Regions from separate parts of the Homo sapiens genome. Here regions 1 and 3 are each linked to region 2. The links come from fine-mapping of genetic effects on plasma protein levels. A gene starts in region 2. Each other region holds a variant in brackets. All regions are shown on one strand. Distances are from middle to middle.

The links. A credible set is the group of variants that fine-mapping cannot tell apart. PIP is the posterior inclusion probability: the model's chance that the variant is causal. Sun 2018 read protein levels with aptamers (SomaScan).
Region 1: its variant is the best candidate, but not a certain one, in a credible set for the plasma level of the PLA2R1 protein (Sun 2018, PIP 0.71). The variant lies in the coding sequence of PLA2R1. If it changes the protein, the assay may bind it differently, which can mimic a change of level.
Region 3: its variant is the best candidate, but not a certain one, in a credible set for the plasma level of the PLA2R1 protein (Sun 2018, PIP 0.51).

Annotation. Positions count from the first base shown.
Region 1 is chr2:160,027,688-160,030,451 of GRCh38, reverse strand. It overlaps PLA2R1 (phospholipase A2 receptor 1), which reads left to right. Exons shown (of 30, transcript NM_007366.5): 5 at 1,489-1,602; 6 at 2,091-2,234. Among named protein-coding and RNA genes, the nearest start is that of PLA2R1, 34 kb to the left of the region's middle. The variant A/G (reference allele first, on the strand shown) is at 1,521.
Region 2 is chr2:160,060,928-160,063,691 of GRCh38, reverse strand. It overlaps PLA2R1 (phospholipase A2 receptor 1), which reads left to right and starts at 1,077. Exons shown (of 30, transcript NM_007366.5): 1 at 1,077-1,397. The coding sequence starts at 1,289.
Region 3 is chr2:159,979,574-159,982,337 of GRCh38, reverse strand. It overlaps PLA2R1 (phospholipase A2 receptor 1), which reads left to right. Exons shown (of 30, transcript NM_007366.5): 14 at 2,424-2,508. Among named protein-coding and RNA genes, the nearest start is that of LY75-CD302, 76 kb to the right of the region's middle. The variant ACACG/G (reference allele first, on the strand shown) is at 1,118.

The DNA.
Region 1 (2,764 bases), 33 kb after region 2:
TGCCTGGATGTGAAACGTGAAAATTTCTCCCTGCCCTGTCAATCCATTTCACTTCTTATCATCATAAGACCTGCTAAACGATTCAATCGAATGGTGCTATTGAAAGGAATAATCAAATAGACATTAGAAAGAGATTCCATATGAATGCCACAGAAACTTGGAAGGGTGAAACCCGTGTATAGTATGCTGTTTCTGTTTATTGATTTCTGGGAGTCTCAAAATTATAAAGCACCTTTTTCTCTTTTCTTAAATGGGTTAGTTTCTTTGAGTTTTTCACAATTGTATTGAAATATCTAGTCACTGAGGATGCTGCAGCCTTGTTATATGACTACAATGACCTTCACAACCTGGGTAATCATACAGTCTATCATCCAAACTGAGATTCTTTTGATAGTAAAAGGGACTGTGATTAATAATTATTCTGGAAATACCAGCATGAACCATGAGTTTTCCAGGAAAATGGGGGCATACGGTCACCCTGTTTATAACCCTTATCCGTCAGGGTCTTAATCTTAGGCAGGACCCCTGCGTCTGACTAAAAATAAATTGGGCTCTGAATCAGGTGAATTGTAAGCGAACAATGCTCTCCTTTATAGATTAAACGAGTAAATGGCAACATTTCAAAGCATCACAAAATTGCCACTTTCATTATGTTTCTGACACTAGGTTTTGGTTTTTTTCCCCCCGAAATTTTGCTGCATAAGTAGTACCTATTTATTCTGGAATAATGTTTAAAATTTAGGTGCACAAAAAGAAAAACTGAGGAAAAATTCCCATAATTCTTTAATTTTGATAACTATGTCTTTCTGCATGTCAATGCATGTTTTTATTCATAGTATCTATAACAAAAATGGTATTGCATTAAACTGCAAGTTGTAGTGGACTGGTTAAGAGGAGGGGCCACAGAGCCAGCCTGCCATTAAACTTCTCCCACCTCAAGCTGTGGAAGCAGCCTCCAGTTTGCACTGCACACAGCCTTAGGTCCCAACCTGCTAGGGATCCCCCGAGACACTCTGGTCCCTCCTGTTGAGCAGACATCTCCTGGTGGCTGTCACACTGTACACCCCTCCCTGATCTACTTCAGCACACCGTTTTACCTTTGAAGATGTGCCTCTGTTCACTTTCTGGGACTGACCCTGCACACCTCTTCCTCCACCCTATTAAACCTTTAAGTTCATGAGCTCACTCAAGTAAGATGGCCTCAAGTATGCAACCATGCACCCTTGTCTAGATTGACAACCCTGAAAGGCAACCTTTCTGGGTACTTGCATGAAGCATTCACAGTTGAAAAACAGCTGTCAGTGAGCCTGCTCTGTTTCTCAAGATGGTGGGAGCCTGCTTTATCACTCAGAAGCACCACGTGCATTCTGTGCACCTTTCCCGTCATTGACTGGAATTAGTTTCTGACTCCATGATCCAGGAATAGGAGAACAAGAAAGATGTGTAACACTGGATTTTTTTTTTGAAGCTCCATAATTTTCATTTCAGAGCACATGAGCAGTAAAACAGTGGAGGTGTGG[A/G]TGGGCCTCAATCAGCTGGATGAACACGCTGGCTGGCAGTGGTCTGATGGAACGCCGCTCAACTATCTGAATTGGAGCCCAGGTACCCGCAGTGTTTTCTTTGCCTTCGTCACGTGGCATCATCTTGCACCCTTACACAGCAGCATTTCCCATGCACATAGGACATGCTTTTTTGAGAGTAGTGTATAAACATTTTTTAGCCTGACTGAATTCCTTTAAGGCAAGCTTTTCCAAACAAGAAAATAGGGACCAGGAAGATAAGCTTTTTAGCCAAAGTTGCAGGAGGATTTGGGTGTAAGCCAAGATTCCAGTCTGCTGTTTTAAAAATAGCTACAAATTGCAAAATATCTCTCTACTTTAAGATAATAAAAGTGGGTCTTTTGGAATCTTTGGGAAATCATTTAATTGACATGCCTGGACTGTAACTGCAAAATCATAGATAACATCTTATAGGATTTACTATATATGACAAATAGAAACGCTGTCCCCCGATGCTGAAAACCACATTTCAATATATATTAAACTAACTGCTTTTGCTTCTAATATTAAAGACACTCATTGTATTTTCAGAGGTAAATTTTGAGCCATTTGTTGAAGATCACTGTGGAACATTTAGTTCATTTATGCCAAGTGCCTGGAGGAGTCGGGATTGTGAGTCCACCTTGCCATATATATGTAAAAAATATCTAAACCACATTGATCATGAAATAGTTGGTAAGCGTTTTTATTTTAAGTTGTTCTTAGGTGTTGTTGACTTGTCCTCTCAATATATGTAAATTTCTCTATTTTTTGCTAATAATTCATAATGTAAACTTAGCTAAATCTAGTTTATATTTATATGAAAAGATGTGTAACTAGACAATATCTGTTATGTCAAAGGGACTGTGATTTTAACAAATGCATTTAGGTTTATACTAAAAACTGAAATAATCTGAGCATAGCAAACATTTTCTTCTCTTTTAAAAAATTTGCACTGTTAGTCATTCTGTATTAGAGAAATAAGATACATTTCTTTTTCTATTCTAGTTTTGAGTTTATTGTTCCCCTAGAAATTAAACATAATTTAGAAAACAATTTTATATAATTATTTACTTCATTGATTTTCTGCCACACTCTGAATCTCTTATTAGTAACACACCTTCCTCCCTGAAATTACATGCAGAACTTTTAGATGGAGTTAATACTTAAATAATATCTAATCACAGTCTAGTACCAGAAGTCCAATTATTTCTGTTTTTCAGGTC
Region 2 (2,764 bases):
TATGGGACCATGACTGAAACTCACCACTGCTGTAGAACAGTGCAGAGGAGTTAATAACCCTAGGATCTCCCTTACCAACAGGGAAGGATAAAGTCCATGGATAAACGCTTGCCCCTTTTGTCCTCGACAGACAGTTCTGAGGCTCTCTGAGGTTCCTGCAGGACTGAGCACCTTTTGTTAAGGCCATGGCCAAGGCAACCACTTTCCCTTCTTCCCCATTTGGCTCTGACCTTCAATCTTGCTCCCTGCTAGGCATTTCCTTCCAGGCTCTGCTTTCTGCCCCTCCCCTCCCCCTCTCTTATGTTTTAATGACTAATGTCAAGGTCCCGCTGAGGAAAGGTCTTATATGAGCCTGTTCTCAGAATATTAAACGCTTCCAGTGTTCTGCTGGTTATTTGAAGGAGGACAGTTAGAACGACTACATTCTAGCCAGGGCTGTCCTACTTGCTAGAGAGTAACTTTTGCTGGATTAGGAAGTAACCTAGAGCAAAGCACTTCGACTTTCTGGGCAGGGTTTCTCAGCTGTAAAAATGGGATAATAGGGACCCCGGCTACTTTGCGGGGCTTGGGGGATCAAAGGAGTTGGAAAGAGGAGGTTATTTCAAAACCGAAGGAGCTGAATAGAAGAATCTCCGGGTTACTCTGGGGCAAGGAAGGTGGAGACCACGGCGTGGCCCCTCAGGTGTCTCCAGTGCTCCACAAGTCAAAGGAGTCCAGGACCCTCCCAAAGCGCCTGCGTCGCGGAGCAGCTGGGTTCACTCTAGGCTGCCCGCTGCAAATCCGCGGTGTTTACCAGAATCCAGGTGGTTTGCAAACCCGGATGTCAGGCTCCTTGTCCCGGAGATTCTCAAATCGCTCACCCACAACTCCTCTTCGGCCTCCCCCAGAAAGGAGAGAGCAGGGCTGCAAGCTAGAGGAGCGGAGAGTGTGACCCGAGCAGCCTCACTCCGCCTGTCCCCACCCCAAAGGCAGGAATTTCTGGGATGGGCAGATGGCCCACCCCTCCTCCTCCTCCTTCCCCAAGCCGCAGTGGGTGGGGCGAGGAAAACCTCCGCGACTTTCCCGCATCCCAGCCCAGAGCCCCGAGTGTCGGTTCACTGTGGAGACAGCGGTGGCGGAGTGGGTCTCCAGGGCTCTGGGCTGGCAAGGCCCCCGGAGGGGGTGGGGCGCGGAGGAGGCTACGGATCCGCTTCCGCGCGGCGGGGCCGGGTGCTTGGGACGCGGCTCTGGGCTCCCGGGATAAGGGGCTCCCGGGACAAGGGGCTCCCGGAGAGCCCAGTGGTTAGCGATGCTGCTGTCGCCGTCGCTGCTGCTGCTGCTGCTGCTGGGGGCGCCGCGGGGCTGCGCCGAGGGTGTGGCGGCGGCGCTTACCCCCGAGCGGCTCCTGGAGTGGCAGGGTGAGTCTCCCAGGGTCGGGGACTGGATCGGTACGTTGGGGAGGGGGGTCGGGGTGGTCGAAGGAGAGGAAGAAGGGGCGAAGCTAGGGGCCAAGCTGGCGGGCAAGGGCGGCCGCGTTTGTAGGGGTTCGTGTGTCAGCAGTCCTGAGCATGGGGGGAGCGGGTGGTGTCCTGCAGCCTCTTGTCTAGGCCCAGCACCCCACTTGCGCGGCCCGGCACCCTCCTGGCTCCTGCGGGGGTCGGGCGGCGGGGGCGGGGGGGCTTGGTCTCGCAGGTAACTCCTCTCGGCTCTGGCGCCCGGAGCCAGCCCGGGATAGGAGTGTCGGAGAAGTTTCAAAACGGAAACTTTCTGAGAGCTGCTTATTTGGGACGGATAAATGATAGCAAAAAGATGGCTCAGTTCGTCCCCTTGCAAAGCAAGCGCTCAGGGTCTGCGTCGCCACCTAGGAGTGACCCCCAAGCCAGGCCTCCCCAGTCCATCCCTTCCTTAAGGAAAACTTTTTTTGTTTGTTTGTTTTTTGAGACAGGGTCTTGCTCTGTCGCCCAGGCTGTAGTGTAATGGCGGGATCTCGGCTCACTGCAGCCTCCGCCTCCCGGGGTCAAGCGATCCTCCCACCTCAGCCTCCCGAGTAGCTGGGACCACAGGTGTGCGCCCGCACGCCCAGCAAAATTTTTGTATTTTTGGTGGAGACGGAGTTTCACCATGTTGCCCAGGCTGGTCTCCAACTCCTGGGCCCAAGTGATCCGCCCACCTCGTCCTCCCAAAGTTCTGGGATTACAGGCCTGACCCACCGCACCCCGCCTGAAAACATCAGGCCAGGTGAGGGAGAGAAGCCCCAGTGGCTCCATGAACTGCGTGATCTGAAGCCTTTATGCCTTAGTCTCTCTCAGTGGAAAAACGGGGTTCAATTCAGCAAACACTTATTGAGCACCTACTACACATGAGACTCAGAAGGTTGTGTAAAGAGAGGGAGGAGAGATTTCTGGCCTGCAGGGGCCCGCATTTGAGAATGGGCCACCTCAGGCAGAGAAGCCTGCGCCTAAGTGCAGAAGTCCATATATGCAAGTAGGAGGGGGACAGGAGGGAGTTAAATATGCCAGGAGGAGCCTCCAGACAGCCTCCATCCTCTCTGCCTTTGGAGATAAGTTTGGAGAGAAGGGGTAACACAAGATGTGATCAATATCTGCGTTCACATTTTTTCCTCCACAGTAGAATATGTCTACATTTTTGAGGTAGTCTTTTCTAGACTGTGTTTCCTAAGCTCCCTGGAGGCTTAATCAGGGGCAGGTAGAACAAGACCATTCTTATTCTAAAGTGACCAAAGTCAGAGATGCTCTTACCTTCTTGGTCAATTCAGAAAATTGCT
Region 3 (2,764 bases), 81 kb after region 2:
TCACACCAGAGCTGCTGAGTCAGACTCTCTGAGTCTGAAGAAAAGTTTAAGAAGCTTTCTGGCTAATTGGATTATCAGCCAGGTGTGAGGCCGCAAATCCAAGGGATAGGTGATAGTCTCCATTGTTCAAAGTTACATTTTGCTTCATTACTTTAGCTTCCTTTAAAACATATTTGCATATTCTGTCCTTGCATTTTAGTGAGGTTTGCCATATGACAACCACACACACACTGCTTCCCAGTTTGCTTTAAGATCAAATGTCACTGTCATTTCTGTTTATGTAAGTTCTCATGCTTGAAATGTCTAGCAGAATTTAGTCCCAAGCTAAATCATGGATCTTCAATATCTGATCACAAAAGTCATATAATATGAGCCAGGCACAGTGGGTCACAGCACTTTGGGACACCAAGGTGGGAGGAACACTTAAGGCCAGGAATTCAAGATCAGCCTAGGCAGCATAGTGAGACTCAGTTTCTACAAAAAAATTTTTCAAAATTAGCTGGGTGTGGTGGCCACACCTGTAGTCCCAGCAAAACCTAGTTCAAAGTTACAGTGAGGTATGATTGTGCCACTGCACTCCAGCCTGGGCAACAGAGCGAGAACCGTCTTTAAATAAAATATTTAAAAATTCTTGACTGGGTGCAGTGACCCACACCTGTAATCCCAGCACTTTGAGAGGCCAAGGCAGATTGCTTGAGCCCAGGAGTTAGAGAACAGCCTGGGCAACATGGTGAAACCCCATCTCTACCAAAAAGTACAAAAAAATTAGCCAGGTGTAGTGGCACACATCTGTAGTCCCAGCTACTCAGGAGACTGAGGTGGGAGTATCAATTGAGCCTGGGAAGAGGAGGTTGCAGTGAGCCAAGATTGTGTGCTACTATACTCCAACCTGGGCGACAGTGTGACCCTGTCTCAAAAAAAAAATTATCAATAACTGTGTATGTTTCAGTTTATTCCCAGACTACCAGAGAATTCAGTCAAATCTGATGCTTAATTATAGCAAACATACCAGATCTCATAGTTAGCAGGTATAACAGGTATGCTGCTTTTCCTTCCTATGGCACTGCTTTTCTATTTCTATTTTATTAATCAGACACACACACACACACACACACAC[ACACG/G]TATGCACATACATGTGTGTTTATTAAATATTGTACAATTTCAGGAAACTGATGAAGAGAAAGTAAATACCATTTCATCTTCCAGGAGCCAGTATATAGCAGGAAAGACATAGAACTCTGAATTCAGTGAGGAAAGAAAAAGGTCACAACACCAGGAGAGTGACATGGATTTTCAGCCTATGCCATCGAGATTAATGTGCTTGGCTTAAACTGAAGGTGGCCATTCTCACCTTCTCCCAGCCTTAAATGAAAGTTAGTATCATCATGACAATGTCCAACCGGGCATCAGTGATCTCTTGGATTTCTAAGCTGAATTTGAATTTAATTTGTGTCATCCAGGCAGAGTAGCTGACATATCCGAGAAGGAATTCCTTGCTTCTCTGCACAAAGGAAAATAAAGTATCTGTCCTGACATCTGAATATTTTAAATCTTTGATTCTTCAAAATTATTCTCAGAAAATTATCTTAGTGAGATGGTTCATTGCACAGGTAGGCTTTATTACTCGATTTATTGAGTATTCTGTGGACACATTTGTACTCTGCCTCATAGAAGGGAAGGTGATTCTCTGTGGAGCTTCTCACCAAGTATAAACCAATGGTGACAACTGAAGTTAATGAACCATGGCTCAGGGTGACTGGCTTTAGAATTATTTGTGTTGATATCTGAAAAAAACCCAAAACCTACTGTGTACCTTTTATTCAGTGAAGATGATGGTGGTTGACTTTCAGAGAATACATGAATGTTTAACAAAAGAACAACAAATCAAAGCATAGTAAAGTAGAATAAATAGTATAGTGAAGTAGCAAACACACAGTAAAGTAGTGAAAGGTCCTCTTGGCTAGAGATGTTCCAAAGTTTCTTACCAATTTTCTTTTCATGTGTTCTTGTCCTGACTGAAAGGCTTTGCTATTCCTGATGAGAAACTCATGTTCTCAATAAAAGCTGACTTTTACCCACCTGTATATCACCTGTGAGCAAACCACACAAACCAAGAGTAATAGAATGTGAGGCTTATTCTTCTCTCAGTTCATGTCACAGCACAGGGTTTTGCACATTTAAAATGTTCAATGCTTGTTGACTTGATCAATCCTGCCAGTAGCATCAGCTGTTTCCTGCATACATAAATATTTTAAAATATTTTTTCTTTTATTATTATTATACTTTAAGTTTTAGGGTACATGTGCACAATATGCAGGTTAGTTACATGTGTATACATGTGCCATGCTGGTATTTTTTGAACCTTTCACATAATGCTGTAAATTTGATGGGAAAGGCAAAGCTTTTGTTTCTTCTCTTTACAGGACAGAAGAAAGGCAGTTCTGGATTGGATTTAATAAAAGAAACCCACTGAATGCCGGCTCATGGGAGTGGTCTGATAGAACTCCTGTAAGTCTTTTCAAACTGGAGAAAAGGGATGGATTCAAAACAAGTGGGCCTGGGACCACTTGGTAAACCAACCAAGAGAACCTAGAAATGATGGCCAGAGCTCCCATGACAAAACTGCACCAGACCTTAGTACCAGGAGAATTATTTGGCAAGGTCCTGAGAAATCTTTGCTAGCCATATTGTTCTGAGGCCATTGTACAATTTCAGCCTGAAAAAGTATCAAAAACCTCCAAAAAGTCCCCCCAAACCATCTCCC